Linked DNA regions of Homo sapiens. The protein of the gene in region 1 purifies or fractionates together with the protein of each later gene. This does not show direct contact. Each region holds a gene or a part of one and is shown on either strand. Other genes may lie near its edges.

The links. Proteins that work in one complex are often made in the same cells at the same time.
Region 2: the proteins of ALDH3B1 (region 1) and CHIT1 purify together in Homo sapiens (affinity purification with mass spectrometry; 2 studies listed by BioGRID and IntAct, with this or other methods). This does not show direct contact.

What each region holds. Positions count from the first base shown.
Region 1 is NC_000011.10:68,013,246-68,020,335, forward strand, and holds part of ALDH3B1 (aldehyde dehydrogenase family 3 member B1), read left to right. Parts: intron 1-2,051; 5' UTR 2,052-2,052; coding exon 2,053-2,214; intron 2,215-5,281; coding exon 5,282-5,392; intron 5,393-5,527; coding exon 5,528-5,648; intron 5,649-5,924; coding exon 5,925-6,010; intron 6,011-6,469; coding exon 6,470-6,551; intron 6,552-7,090. UniProt on the Homo sapiens protein: Oxidizes medium and long chain saturated and unsaturated fatty aldehydes generated in the plasma membrane into non-toxic fatty acids. May have a protective role against the cytotoxicity induced by lipid peroxidation.
Region 2 is NC_000001.11:203,226,674-203,234,167, forward strand, and holds the start of CHIT1 (chitotriosidase-1 isoform 1 precursor), read right to left. Parts: upstream 3,001-7,494; 5' UTR 2,964-3,000; coding exon 2,939-2,963; intron 1,890-2,938; coding exon 1,860-1,889; intron 1-1,859.

The DNA of each region.
Region 1 (7,090 bases):
TGGTTGCCCTGTGGGAGAGATGTGTCCTGTGGCCCTGGTGAGTTGGTTTCAGCGTTGCTAGGAGGGTTGCTGGAATGTTCCCTGCAGAACTCCATCCCCCACAGAGCTCCCGGCCCACAGTCCACCATTCACGTTACGTGCCTTGCATTTTTGTGGTTTCTGCAGAGATTCTTACAAAGGGTGAGAGAGGCACAGGCGTGGTTTGCCTTTGACCACTGGCAGAAGTCTGAAGGTGAGAGTAGAATGGAGAAGGACCCAGGAGAGTGCGGAGTTGAGGGAGATAAATATTTGCAGGCTACTTAGCAAAACACCCAGAGCTGACCTTTGTCGAGTACTTTCTGTGGGCACAACAGCAAATGTTTTATGCAGCGTGATGTCATTTAATCCTCACAATGACACCAGGTGCCATTAGCATCCCCATTTCACAGATGAGGAAACCGAGGCAGAGAAGGTGAGTGATTTGCCCAAGGTCCCACAACCAGTAAGAGGCAGAGCCCGGAGACAGGCCTGATGGTGGCTCGAGAGGCTCGTTCTTGGCTCCTGGGTCTCAGTCCTGCTCCCGTGACGAGCCATCCCCTATGGGGACCATGGTGCCTGTCCTGTGTGCGGGCCACTGCCCAGCTTCTCCCAATCAGAGCAGGAAGATGGTGGGTTCAGCCTGGCCCCACAATCACTCCAGCTGAGGGCTGGCCTGGGGCTCCTGACCAGGCTCTCAGTAGCACACTGGTCCAGCAGGGCCATCCTGCAGACCGGAGCAGGTCCCGCCCTCAAGGTGGCCACTTAACAATCACCCACAGCCTTGCGCTCACCGATGCTGGGCCCTGGGCTCAGAACCGACTGTGTGGTCTCATCATTAGCTGGCAGGTGCCATCATTACACCGGTAACATGAGAGGCTTCAAGCACTAGGTCTCAAATAAGTAGGCACAGAGGGGCCTGCCTCCCAGTCTAATGAGGGGGAAATAAGGGAGATGTGGACAGGGTTGGGAGGTGGGTAGAGTGTAACCAGACATTTATCACATGGCACAACTCAGAACGCTGGGGAGCAGAGTCAAGGGGCCACTGTGACAGTGGATGAGGGCATAATCTGGGTGGGCTGCCTGGAGGAAGCATCAGCCAAGCTGAGATCTGGAGGAAAGGGACTCGGAGAGGGAAGGAGGAAAGGGTCACCACGGGTCCTTGGCACCAGGCCGAGGAACGAGTGCGTCAGAGTGCTCCTCCGATGAACTTCAAGTAAACAGGCAGGGCTCGGGGGAATGTCTAGGCCCCTACCCTGCCTGCCAGCTCTGGCTGGCACCAGCACGGAGGCAGGAACGCCCTCTCCCCCGCCCTGATCCTCTCCCCCACAGCTGTTTCTGCCTCCCAGCACCACAGCCCCGGCAGGGTGGGCAGCAGGGCCTCCAGGAGGCCCGAGGTGTTCTCCCCCTCTTCCTGAGGAAGCTGAGGCACAGGGAGAAGAGGCTATTGCCCACTGGCCTGGCCTCCCTGGGCAGTGCCCCCAGGCTGGGGACAGAGGAAGACGGAGAATTCTGTGTCTGGAGTGCTCCAAGGTGGTGGCCATGGTGGCAGTGAGTCACCCCCTCTACTCATCAAGCTCCTGCTTACACCATTCAGACTGGCAGGGGTGAGGCTGCCCCGCCTCCAGGAGGGGCATCAGGGCAGGGCAGAGGCCATGGCTTGGGGTTAATTTCTGTGCGGCAGGAAGAAGCATGGCGCTCTGCCTGCCTGCTCACCCTCGGGGGCTGTGGTGGAGCAGCTGTCCCCAAGCCCACACCCAGTCCTGCAGCCGCCTCCAGGTCCATGGCAGAGGGGAGTGGTGCGAGGGTCTTCATGTGTGTCTGGGAGTGCTCACTGTTGGGTGAAAGGGGTTGCAGGCAGCCTCAGTCCCTGTGGGGTCATCTGAGTGGGTCCCTGTGTGTGTATAAGGTAGAGGTGTCTGCAAGCCCCTGTGGGTGCAGGCAGGTCAGGGGTGCCCAGACCCTGGGGCGGCTGGGTGGTGCCCATGAAGGAGGGGCAGCCCTGGCCACCCAGTTCATGCCACCCCATCTGGCAGGATGGACCCCCTTGGGGACACGCTGCGGCGACTGCGGGAGGCCTTCCACGCGGGGCGCACGCGGCCAGCTGAGTTCCGGGCTGCGCAGCTCCAAGGCCTGGGCCGCTTCCTGCAAGAAAACAAGCAGCTTCTGCACGACGCACTGGCCCAGGACCTGCACAAGGTGGGCTGGGGTTGGGGGTATGAGAGGGTGCACTGGGGCAGGGGGGCATGGAGGGCAGCTGGGACAGCAGGGGATGAAGACACCTGCGCCCTCCATGAAGCGGGGCTAAAAGCAGCTCCTCCCCTAGGCCAGAGCCACCCTTGCACATTCATCCAGTCACTTATTTCTGTATTCATGCAGCAACTATTTGCTGAGCACCTACTATGTGCCAGGTACTGTTCTAGGCTCTGGGGATATAGCAGAGAATAAAACACAGTTCCCATGCCTACGAAGATGACCTTCTATCGGAGACAATAAAACAGCAAATAAATAATTGCACAGCAAGGCCGGGCATGGTGGCTCACACCTGTAGTCCCAGCACTTTGGGAGGCCGAGGTGGGCGGATCGCTTGAGGCCAGGAGTTCAAGACCATCCTGGCCAACATGGCGAAACCCCGTCTCTACTAACAATACAAAAATTAGCTGGATGTGGTGGTGGGCACCTGTAATCCCAGCTACTCAGGAGGCTGAGGCATGAGAATCGCTTGAACCTGGGAGGTGGAGGTTGCAGTGAGCCAAGGTCACACCACTGCACTCCAGCTTGGGCAACACAGTGAGACTCCATCTCAAAAATAATAATAAAGATAATAATTACACAGCATATTGGGTTGAAATATGTGCCCTGGAGACACACCCAGGGTGAAGGGGAGAGAGGGGGCCAGGATCAGGGTGCTGTTGTATATGTGGGGGTCAGGGAAGGTTTCTCTGAGAAGGGGGCTTTAGAGCAGAGACGTGAAGATGGAGGGGAGGCTCCCCATGGATGCTGGGGAGATGGCAGCGGGCACAGCACGTGCAAAGGCCCTGAGGCAGGAGGTGCTGGGTGTTTCTGCTTGAGGAGCAGCAAGGAGGCCAGCATAGCTGTCGGGGGTGGGAGAGGAAGAAACAGCAAAGATGAGGTCTGGGGTATGGGCCACACTATGTAGGGCCTCGGAGGCCGTGAGGCCTTGGCCTTCTCTCTGGGTACAGCAGGCATCATGGCCTCTGTCTAGACCCTGAAGGCTTGGGGCCTCAGCCCCTCCCAATCCCAGTGGCAGCCAAGGCAGAACCCCAAGAAACACACTTCCCCCAACCCCTCACCCATCAGGGCCCATGCACCTGCCTGCCCCTGCCTCAGGACACCTGCCCCTGCCTCAGGACACCACCTGCCCCTGCCTCAGCACATCTGCCCCAGGGGCTGCCCCCGGCTCCTATTCTCTGGACAAAATATCTCCTCCCTTTGCCTTGAAGGCTGTAGTGTTCAGACCTTCCCCCAGCCCATTGGGCTCCCTGGGGACTGACTCCCCCGCCACCACTGAGCTTCTGCCACCGGCCGCCTGCCGGCCTTCATGAGACTTGACCTGACGTCTGTCTGGTCCCTTTTCTCCCTTCGGCTCTGATTCCACCTCCTGCCTTCCCATCCCAGCTGCAGGAGCGGGGCCCTACAAAGGCAGCAGTAGCCCAGAACATTCAACCTGGTCCCTCCCTCTGGACCTGGTCACCCCCCTGTCCCCACCCTCAGCAGGCAGCATCTGCCCAGCGTCACGTGCACCCTCTCAGTTAACCCTTTGGTGAATCTGGTTGGGCAACCACACCCAGTGGCCCCCAGAAGAGGCTCAGAGAGAGTGTGTTCTTGCCCAAGGGCATGCAGCCAGGAAGAGCAGAGCCAGAGTTTGAACCTGGCTCAAAATAGCCCAGTCTCCCAAAGTCAGGTCCCAGGTGACCTAGGAGGTGTGGCGGGCAGGCCACCAGGCTCATGGGGCCAGAGCACAGGCTGTGGGAAAGTCCGTGTGGAAGGCACCTTCCCCCAGCCTCAGTGGCTAGGAGGTGCCAGTGGGCGTGGCGTCTTCCTCCCTCTTGGGGCTCAGCTGTAGCCCTGGCCTTGCCCCTGGTTCGCTGAGTGACCTCAGGCAGGGCATCTCCTTCTCTGGGCTTCGCTGGTCCTCTGGCCCATCCAGCACCCCACTGGCCCGTCCCCCTCTGCCCTGACCCGGGAGAGCCTGCACCCCATAACCTCAGGCGCTGCCTCAGCCAGGGAGCCAGCCTGGCCCCAGTGTCCCTGACCTGTTCTCCAGCGGCCTGCAGCCTGCTGCCTGGCTGGTCTCTCCTCCCTTGGGGCGCAGAGGGCAGGGAGCACTGGCTAGCCGAGAGCAGGACAATGTCCCTATTGATTCGGGTCTCCTCACTCCTGCTTAGAAGCCTGACAGTGGCCCTGGCCCCTGGGCTGTGGGAACTGACAGCATTTACCTAGGGGTGGCTGTGCCTGTGTCTCCTGTGGACCAATCTCCACCCTGCTCTTTGGGAGACTGAGGTGGGAGGATTGTTTGAGGCCAGGAGTTCAAGACCTACCTAGGCAACACAGCAAGGCACTCTGCAAAAAATCAAAACAAACTTTTTTTGAAATTAAAAAAAAACAAAACCCTAAGTCAGATCCCATCCCTGCTCTTCTCAGGAGTCCTTGCCTGGCTGCCTGGCCCCCTCACCTTGCCCACTCTGCTTCTTGCTAAACAGGAGCAGAGCAAGCGCACAGCCACCTCGGGGCCTTTGCAGCCGCCAGGGCCTCTGCCCAAAGTATGCCGCCTCCCAGTACCCACGACTTGCTTGTTCCTTGACTTCAGGTCACTGCTCCAATGTGACCGCCGCCTGGAGACCTGCACTGACCGCTTTGTAAAAACAGCACACACACACATGCTCATGTGGATGTATACATGTGCACACCTGTGCACGCCCACAGCCACACGCTCCAGCAGTCTCCACCCCCACCCTGCTCCATGATTTCCCTAGCACAGCCACGTCCTAATGGAGCCGTCAGCGTTCTCACTTTCACATGGAACGACTGCCCCCTGCAAGGTCGGCCTCAGGGCCGGTCCCTCTGTTTGGCACAGAGACAGCACCTCACACAGGAAGCACGCACTGAACATGGAGTGAGTGAGTGAACGAATGAATGAAAATGAATGAATGAGTTGTGGAAGCAGGCCCTGCCTGGAGGAGGCTGTGCCCTCCTGCCAACTCTGGGAATCCTGGCCCACCCTGACCCCACCCACTTCCTGCAGTCAGCCTTCGAGTCGGAGGTGTCTGAGGTTGCCATCAGCCAGGGCGAGGTCACCCTGGCCCTCAGGAACCTCCGGGCCTGGATGAAGGACGAGCGTGTGCCCAAGAACCTGGTGAGCCGGCCGGGCTGAGGCGGGCAGGGGGCTCAGGGGATATTTGCTCCCACAGGGTGGCCCCTCTGGGTGGGAGCTGGCTGCTGAGGGGCCGGGGTGCTGAGCACTTAATTTCATCCCCGGCTCCCGGCCCAGGCCACGCAGCTGGACTCCGCCTTCATCCGGAAGGAGCCCTTTGGCCTGGTCCTCATCATTGCGCCCTGGAACTATCCGCTGAACCTGACGCTGGTGCCCCTCGTGGGAGCCCTCGCTGCAGGTGAGAGCTGGGCCTGCCCCTTCCGGTCACCCTTCTCCGCTCGAGGCCTCAGGGCCACCCATGGATCCCAGGAGGACATGGGAGAACTGGCCCAGGTGGCAAAGAGGACTGTCTGGTCCACCGTCCCCGGGCTGTGTGGCCCTGGGCCCGTCATGTTACCTCTCTGAACCAGGTTCTGCATCTGAAAGTGGGTGAGGCTGATGCCTGCCCTGCAGGTGTGTGGAGACCAGGAGCTGGCTACGCCTCCTCCAGCTCTCTCCCTGCACTGCCCTGCAGGGAACTGTGTGGTGCTGAAGCCATCGGAGATTAGCAAGAACGTCGAGAAGATCCTGGCCGAGGTGCTGCCCCAATACGTGGACCAGGTGAGCAGGGCTGCCGGGCAGGTAGAGCGGGAACAGGCAAGGCTCAAGGGCTGGGCAGCCCCTGGCATGGAAGGGCCTGTCAGTCAGACCCGAGTCCCCACCTCAATCCTGCCTCTTCTGAGTTGTGTAAACTTGACCAAGTCACCGCCCCTGTCAGCCTCAGTTTCCCTCTGAGGAGCAGCGAGGGCAGCCTGTTGCCCAGGGGTTCCGTGTCTGCCTCCACCTGGCCCTGGCATCAGCCCCTCCAGCGCCAGCTGGACTCCAAGCTGGGCCTGCCAATGCCAGCCAACCTTGGGGAGCTCCCTTCTCCCCACTTTGCCTCCACCCAACCCTCCTAGAGCCCTGGCTGGGTCAGGCCAGGCGGGGTGGAGGCAGGGCAGGGTCCAGGCAGGGCGGGCTGCTCCCTTGTGTTCTCGGAGCTGGGGTCCCAGAAGGAGCCTCACCCATCCCGCCTTGCAGAGCTGCTTTGCTGTGGTGCTGGGCGGGCCCCAGGAGACGGGGCAGCTGCTAGAGCACAGGTTCGACTACATCTTCTTCACAGGTGAGGCCGGGACGAGGGTCGGGACAGGCTGGGGTCGGGGAGGACAGCTGCTCAGGGGTCCTGTCCCTAACTCTGGGAGTCCACAGGGAGACTGAATTCTCCTCTCTCTCTCTCTCTGGACCAGGCTGGGAGCAGTCCTGGACCCCCAGGACCCCTTAGGAAGGGATGGAGTCCCATGTCCAGGGCCAGCCCACTGTGCCAACCACAGCGTCAGGAACCATAGCCTCTGCCCCCACTGTCCCCAGACCCTCATACGTGACCCTGCTGCCCCCCAGGCTCTTAGACACCACCCTACTGGTGCCCACAGCCCTCTCTGCAGGCAGATGAGGGACTGGGCCTCAGTGTCCTGCCCAGGGTCACCCTGCTGGCCAGGATGGGGACAGGCTGGAATGTGCACACAAGCCCTTGGAGAAATCCACGCCAGAGGTCACTTTTTTTTTCTTTTTTTTTGAGACAGAGTCTTGCTCTGTCACCCAGGCAGTGGCACAATCTTGGCACAATCTTGGCTCACTGCAACCTCTGCGCCTCCTGGGTTCAAG
Region 2 (7,494 bases), on another chromosome or scaffold:
ACTTGTCTCTAGAGTACCCTACAGTGTGTGAAAAGACTTTGCAGGGGTGGGATGGTCTATTCCCAGTGAGGGCTCGGTGGTGATGACCCCCACTGAGGTCAGCCCTGTGCAGGGTTGACCAGGACACCAGGAAGCAAGAATGCTAGTCTTCATTCCAGCATCTGCCAAAAATAGACTTTGGGTCTATCTCATCTTCAATCCCGGCCCCATCTGATAATGACTGTGTGGTCTGTGGGGTCTCTTCCAGTCTCTCAATCTATGATGGTGTGGTTTGTATGAGCCAACATTTTATGCCAAGATCTTGATGGAGCAGTGAGTTTGGACTGGAGCGTGCCTGTGGCTGGTGTCTAGAACCTGGGACTTCCCTTTGCCCCAGCAGGGTCTGTCTGTACCCCCTCCAATGCCCACATGGACAGGGATGGGACGAGGAAGAGGAGGGGTGCAAAGTGTCTATAGGAGAGTTTTGGGAAGAGACCGCTCAGGCAGGCCTCAACTAGAACCCGAGAGCATGGAGGGCTGACCTTGGGCATACACGTGGCCCCGGAGTGGTCACTGTCTCTAACCAGAGGTCACCCAGGAGTGCAGCTTGCTAGTGGGGCTGGGGTGTAGCCTGCAATGATACAGGAGAATTGGTGAACTCCCCAAAGGAAAAGAAAGGAAGGAGGGGATGAAACCAGATAACTCATCCCCCAGGCCATGTAGGAAGGAGCCAGGAAGCTCTTTTTCTATCATGTCATGCTGTCGCATATCAAATATTGTTATGAATTTCTGTACTATGGAGAAAATAAAGTGCAGTGGTTAACAGCAGGGACTCTGGCATGTCAGTGTCTGGGTTGAAATCCCAACTTTGCAACTTACTCGCTGTGCGACTCAGCTTCCTCCTGTGTGAAACGGGGAGACCATTGGACCTTCCACAATGTGTGTCACAGGACCCCAGTGTGGGCTAAAGTTAATATATGTAAAACACTCGGAGGAACACTGCAAGGAAGAAGTTCTGTTCTAGGTGCTTCACATATATTAACCCTTAGTCCACACAAAGTCCTACTATTATTACTATACTGCAGAAAGCCCAGAAGTAGCCTGGACTAAAGCTTTTTGAGAAATCTTCCACCTCTCATCTTCCCCATGTTTGCTGTTTCTGTGCCCCCGGCTGTTCCATCCTATGAGGCTGAGAGGGAAATGTACCTCCAATGCTACAGCCCAGCGTGAGAGGCACAGTCGCAGGACAAGTTCTGAGAGGCCAGCATTCCCAGGCCACTGATGCCCAGGGAATGGGGTGGGACAAGACGGGGACCAGGAGTTCAAGTTGCTGAAGGTCCCCCAGGTCTCTTTTCCATTTGACACAACAAGGAGCTCCCTCCTGCCTCTCTCAAGCTCCACATCTGATCAGTTCAACAGACCAGAAGCAAGTGTGTTGTCCTCGCAGAGCTAAGGGGCTGGGGATGCTGAACCAGATGAGACTTAGGTTCCTTACCTGCAGCAACTTGGAGTCTGAGACTGGTGCAGAGAGACACCTAAGCCAATAATGAGAGGCAGTACTGTACTGTAAAACACACAGGTGCTGCAAGAGCACAGAGTGCAGAGGAGGGAGCCAGCAACCCCAGGAAAGGAAAGCCCTGAAAGAGGCTGATGCGCAAGCTGGCCCCACAGATGTGCAGGAGCTCAGCTAATGGATAAGGAGGCAAGAGCCTTCCTGGGAGGGCTGGTAGCAGATGGGGACATTTGCAGGGGTCTGAGCTTTGGAAGAGAGTCCCCACTGAAATCTGGAGCTCTTGGGGAGGTCTGGCAGGGAAGGTGTTTTGGGACATTAAGCAGAGCCCAGGGAAGGGGCTGAGGCAGCCAAGAAAGAGGCTACTTACCCCATGGGATCATCAGCAGGACCATGAAACCTGGAGCAACACAAGAGAGAAGGCCAGGGTTATGCTGCCATTCTCACCTTCCCAGGCCCCACAGCTTACGGAAGCACAGGAGGTGGTCAGGGAGGGCTGATTTCATACAAATCAAGCTTTCTCCTTTCAGAAGGGACCCAGGAGGGCACTGTGCCCATCCCTTCATGCAGACCAGACCACGGGGGTCTCTTCCTGGCCTGGGTTGGTCCTAGAAGCTGATGGAAAGTTCCATGGGCTGAGGCTGCCCCCTCTCTATACCTCAGTAAAGGGCAGTGTGGATTCAGGAAGATTGTGGAAAAACTGCTGACTTGTGAGTTATTTAGAGAGATAGTTTCTCTTTCGGAACAAGAAACAAGCCTGTTTTGGGGCTAGAAAGAATCAATCTGGAAGGGCTGCATGGAGAGAGTTCATCTCCTGGGGAGGGCCTGTGCCTCTGCTCCCATCGTTTATGGCTTCCTGTTGCCTTTCCGCTACCTGGCTGTGGTAGGCAACCACAGCCTTGGAGACCTAGGGTCTGACAGGACTCCTTCGAAGAGATCTCTTTCACCTGGTGACCTTGGACTTCTCTGTCAACCTAATAGAACCTCCATGAAAATTTGCAAGGATGCCCAGGATCTTGGCCCCAGGCTGCCCTCTTGCAGGACAGACAATATGAGGTTGGAGAAGAGGTTCTTGGCAGTGGGCGCTTCTTGGATAAGGCCAACAGGAGGGACCTAAGAACATGGGAAAGACACAAAGACCCAGTGCAGGGGCCTCATTGACTCTGGGCTTTCAGGACAGAGAGAGGAAAGTCAAGTCATCTTCAGCCTGTTGAGAAAAGCCTTCCCTTGCAACATGAAGTCTCTTGGGCTGAAAGAGCCTAAGGGGGAGCCCACAGGAAAGGTAATCAAGGGACTGCAAGCCAGGAGGCATGGAGAGGGATAAAATGACCCTCTGAAGTTCTCCTGAGTCCTCCTGCTTCCTTGCAAATGGTAGCAAGTGGTCCCTGAACATCCACATCCCCACCTCCCCACAGCTCCCGAGACCCAGCCCACTATCCGACGGCTCACCTGCCCAGGCCACAGACCGCACCATGATGCAGCTCAGCGGCAGGCTGCAGCCCATACAAACCAGCTTTCCAGGTCCTGCTCTGCTTTTATCTGGCCACCCTGTCCCACCCCAGCCAGGAGTGTTGCAATCAGGGGCACTGGGTGGGGGGGATGGGAGCAGGGTGGGGAGGGGTAAGATGTCAAGCAGCATGAATTGGGCAAACTTGACACAATGGCCTTTAGCAATTCTTGCTTTTCTGGAACAATCAGAGGGTGACTCTTAGTGTTGCCAAACAGAGGAAAGCGGGAAGTGGCCCTGAACCTCCTGATGGATGAGCATGACCCTGACTTTCTTTGTGTAGTTGGTGAGGACCATAAGCAGCCCCAGACTTAATAGGGCTTTGGAGGAAGAGAAATGACTCACGAGTCAGGCAGCTGGGTTCCAGACCAGCTCTCTTGCTTCTCCACTGCCCTCTCTCAAACTGTTTCTCCATCTAGAAGATAATGGGGTTGCAAATATAATTTACTTTTCATGATAGTAATAGTTGCATATCCATTGATGGAGAAAAATAGATAATGATAAATAGTGACTATAAGTTTGGTAATGGCTTGAAATGCCTATGTTTCTTATGAAGAATAATAATGGTGGACATTTGGGCCAGGCATGGTGGCTTACACATGTAATTCCAGCACTTTGAGAGGCCGAGGCAGGTAGATCACCTGAGATCAGGAGTTCGAGACCAGCCTAACCAACATGGAGAAACCCCATCTTTACTAAAAATACAAAATTAGCCTGGCATGGTGGCACATGCCTGTAATCCCAGTTACTCGGGAGGCTGAGGCAGGAGAATTGCTTGAACCCAGGAGGCGGAGGTTGTGGTGAGCCGAGATCGCGCCACTGCACTCCAGCCTGGGCAACAAGAGTGAAACTCCATCAAAAAAAAAAAAACAAAAAAAAAAAAACAGAAGAATGGTGGACATTTGTGTCGGTTTCCCAGAGCTTCTGTAACAAATGGCCACCAAACAGGTGATTTGAAACAACAGAAGTTTATTCTTTCACAGTTCTGGAGGTCAGAAGCCTGGAAACAAGGAGTTGGCAGGGCCATGCTTCCTCCGAAGGCTCCAGGGGCGAATACTTCCCAGCAGCTTCCAGCTTCGGATGGCCTGTGGCATTCCTGGGCATGCAACGGCATCGTTCCAGCCTCTGCCTGCCTCCATTTTTACACGCCCTTCCTCGCTGTGTCTCTGTATGTCCCCTCCTTTCTGTCTCTGAGAAGGACATTCTAATCCAAGATGATCTCATCTTGAGATCTTTACCTTCATTACATTTGCAAAGACCCCTATTACAAATACAGTCACCTTCTGAGATTCCAGGTGAAGTTATCCTTTGCGGGGGGTGGGAGGGGGTCACCATTCAATTCACCACAGGACCCAAGTGGGCACATATTACTGTAATGTCTGCAGACAATGTCTGGTGTATGCATGAACTCCAGGGTCCCTGAGAAAGCTCTGCAGTTTCTAGGGGATCCAGTCTTTGGCCGGTGGGCTTAACATGAATGGCCTAGATGGCCACGTGGGAATATTGGGTGCGGCAGGCTGTGGAGTTAGGTTCCTGAGTTTGAATTCCTCCTCTGCCATTTACTATCTGTGTAAACTGAAGTGAGTTCCTTAATTTCCCTGAACTCCAGTTTCTTCATCTGTAAAGGGGAATCCTCAGAGGACTGTTGGGAACGCACTCCATGGTGGCTGCTATTATTCCTGGTTCTGCCAAGTGCTGCCACTTCTGCTGGTCTAGGGGTGTCAGAGGGCTCTAGTAACCTCTTCGAGGCCCCTGAGAGTGTTGGACCTCAGCACTCAGATGGACCAGCCCTAAGTCCTCCCTTTCCCTGCTGCAGTCATGGCTTCTGTTTCTGCTGTGGTCAGCCCTTTCTCTTGGGGATCCTGCAAAAGAGCCTGTTCAGGGTCACCTGAGATGTGCAGAGGTGCCTCAGCTCCTTGGTGGTGGGGGAGTGAGAGTGGGATGCAGGAGTGAGGACTGGGAGGTCCTGAGCCTCGGGGAGGAGAGGCTTCTCTGGAGAGTTAGGGGCCACCTTATCTCGCCCCCGCCTCCATATACACAACTGACCTGTCAGTTTCATGAATTTCTCGCTATGCCTCATGTCCCCAGGAGGACATGCACTGCAGTGCCCAGAATCTGAGTTTCTCCAAACACTGCCCCATCCCCTATTGTCTTTAGGTTTTCTAGAAAAACAGATCAAAAATAATAACAGAGTTTGGTAATATGGCTGGATTTAAGGTGAATGTACAAAAATGAATAGCTTTTCTCTACATTAGCAATAACCAATTAGAAATAGAAGTGAAGGAAATGTCTGATTCACAGAAGTGTCAAAATCTATAAAATATTTATAAATAAATTTAATAACAATAATAAGTTTAATAGTAGAATCTATAAAACTTACCCACAGGATATAAATTTGCAATAGGATCTGAACATGTTCTTGCACGGGAAAACAATATCATAACAAATGTCAATTTTTGTCAACTAAAATACAAAACCAGTAATGATGGTGACACACTATACAAAACTTATTATAATTCCATTGGGATTAAAATAGCATGGAATTGCCACCAGGACAGACAAACAGAGGTAGGTCTGAGCATATATGGAGAGGGTGTGTGCAATGAAGGTAGCAGTTCAAATGAATAAGAAAAAGATGTTTTATAAATGCCAATGACTTAATTGTCTACCAATCTGGAAAGAATCAAAGTTAGGCCCCTCACACCATATACAGCAGAAATGACACGTGGTAAATGAAGGTGGGCACAGGGAGCAAAGGAGCTCAAGGAGAAACACCAGCCAGGGTGGGGTGGGAAAGCCAGTGGAGTGATGCTTGAACAGAGCTTTGAGAATAAGTAGGTTGCTGGACAAAGAGAGAAAGGGAAGGAAGTTATAACAAACACACCAGATGTTCACTGATGGAGCCTCTCAGTGAGGAAACTGCCCACGATACATGCAGGGACAGTGGGACATCATTAAAAACTCTGTGTCCTGTCGGTTGAGAACCACTGGTTGAGGTAGGCAGGTGGGGGTGATCTCTGCTGAGGGGCTCTGTGTAAAAGGGCACTGGACATGGCTGGAGGGAGAGGAGAGAGATACAATGCCTTGCCAGCCTGGATTTATTTTACAGTATGCCTCAGTCTAGTAGGGCACATCCTGGGCTCACCTGATGGCCAGACCTGAATTGCAAGATTTCAAGGAATAAGTCCCTGCCTGGAGGCTGAGACCTGGGAGCAGAAGGCAGGCCCATGTCCACCAAAGCTGGGGAGGAGCCTTCCCCAGGGACTGACCCAGAGTTCCCACCTAAGTAGGCAGGTCCCAGCCACCAGTACAGATTGCCCATGTGTAGAACTGAGAGGTCTCTGATGCCTTCAGCAAACTTCAATTAACAGCCCACCACACCTTTGCTCCTAAATTGTGTCCCTCCTGGGGCTGCCCTCCCTGGCCCTCAAGTCCTACAGAGATCACTCTGAGTTAAGCCTTGCCTCTTCCACAGTCAATGTACTCCATACTACCTTCTGCTATCTTGGAACAACTCCTTCCATCCAGAATAGGAAAGAACCCTGGCTTGGAGACAGACAGAACTGGGTGTATCTCAATGGATATCACCAATAAATTACTTTCATAGATTTTATACTCTCCTTTCCAGCCCCATTGGCTTCTCCCACCCCTTTCTCAGCCACTGCCAAAGCCCAAACCAAGTAAAACCAGTGTGCTTGATATAAAATGAGGCTTCAAAGCAAGTCCCCGTCCCACCCTACTGCAGAGCAGATGCCTGTATAGAAATTCTAAAGCTTCTGCTGATTTGCATCCAACCTGGCTGGCTGAGCTGGGGCTAGTCACAGCCTCTCCAAGCCTTGGTTTTCTCATCTGTAAAATGGGGATAATACTACCTATCTTATTTGGTAATGATGTGGATCGAATAGATAATGTGTGAGAGGGCTTTGTAGGTGGGAGGACGCCAGCCAGATCTCATGGGACTGCATCTTGATGGTTGGTATCACACCTTTTTCTCTTGCTTCATGTGAGCATCTCATCTCTGTAGCTGGACTGTCCATAGCCAGGCAGAGTGGGGCCTCTCTCCACACCTCTCTATGTGTCCCTCAGCACCAAGCATACAGGGGGTCTTCAATTAATGTTTGTTAACTGTTCCTTCCCACGTCCCACCGTGTTCTTCCCCTTAGCAGTAAAAGACATCACCACCTATCCGGGTCTCCAAGTCACCCAGGAAGTGTCCTTGATCCTTCCCTTTCCTCACCCTCAATGATCAGGACCTATTAGACATCCTGCCTCCTGCTCCATCTCCTCCACCTCCTAACCACCGTCAACTCCCACCCTGTCCCCAGAAGAGCCTCCTACCTGCCTTCCTTCCTAATTCTCTTGCCTCTGCAATCCATTCTCCACACAGCAGCCAGAGTACACTTTGAGAAACTTAAATCAGATCCTGTTGCTTTCCTGCTAAGACCTTGCAATGGTTCCCACTTAAAATAAAATATCAACTCCTTAACTCTACCTCTAG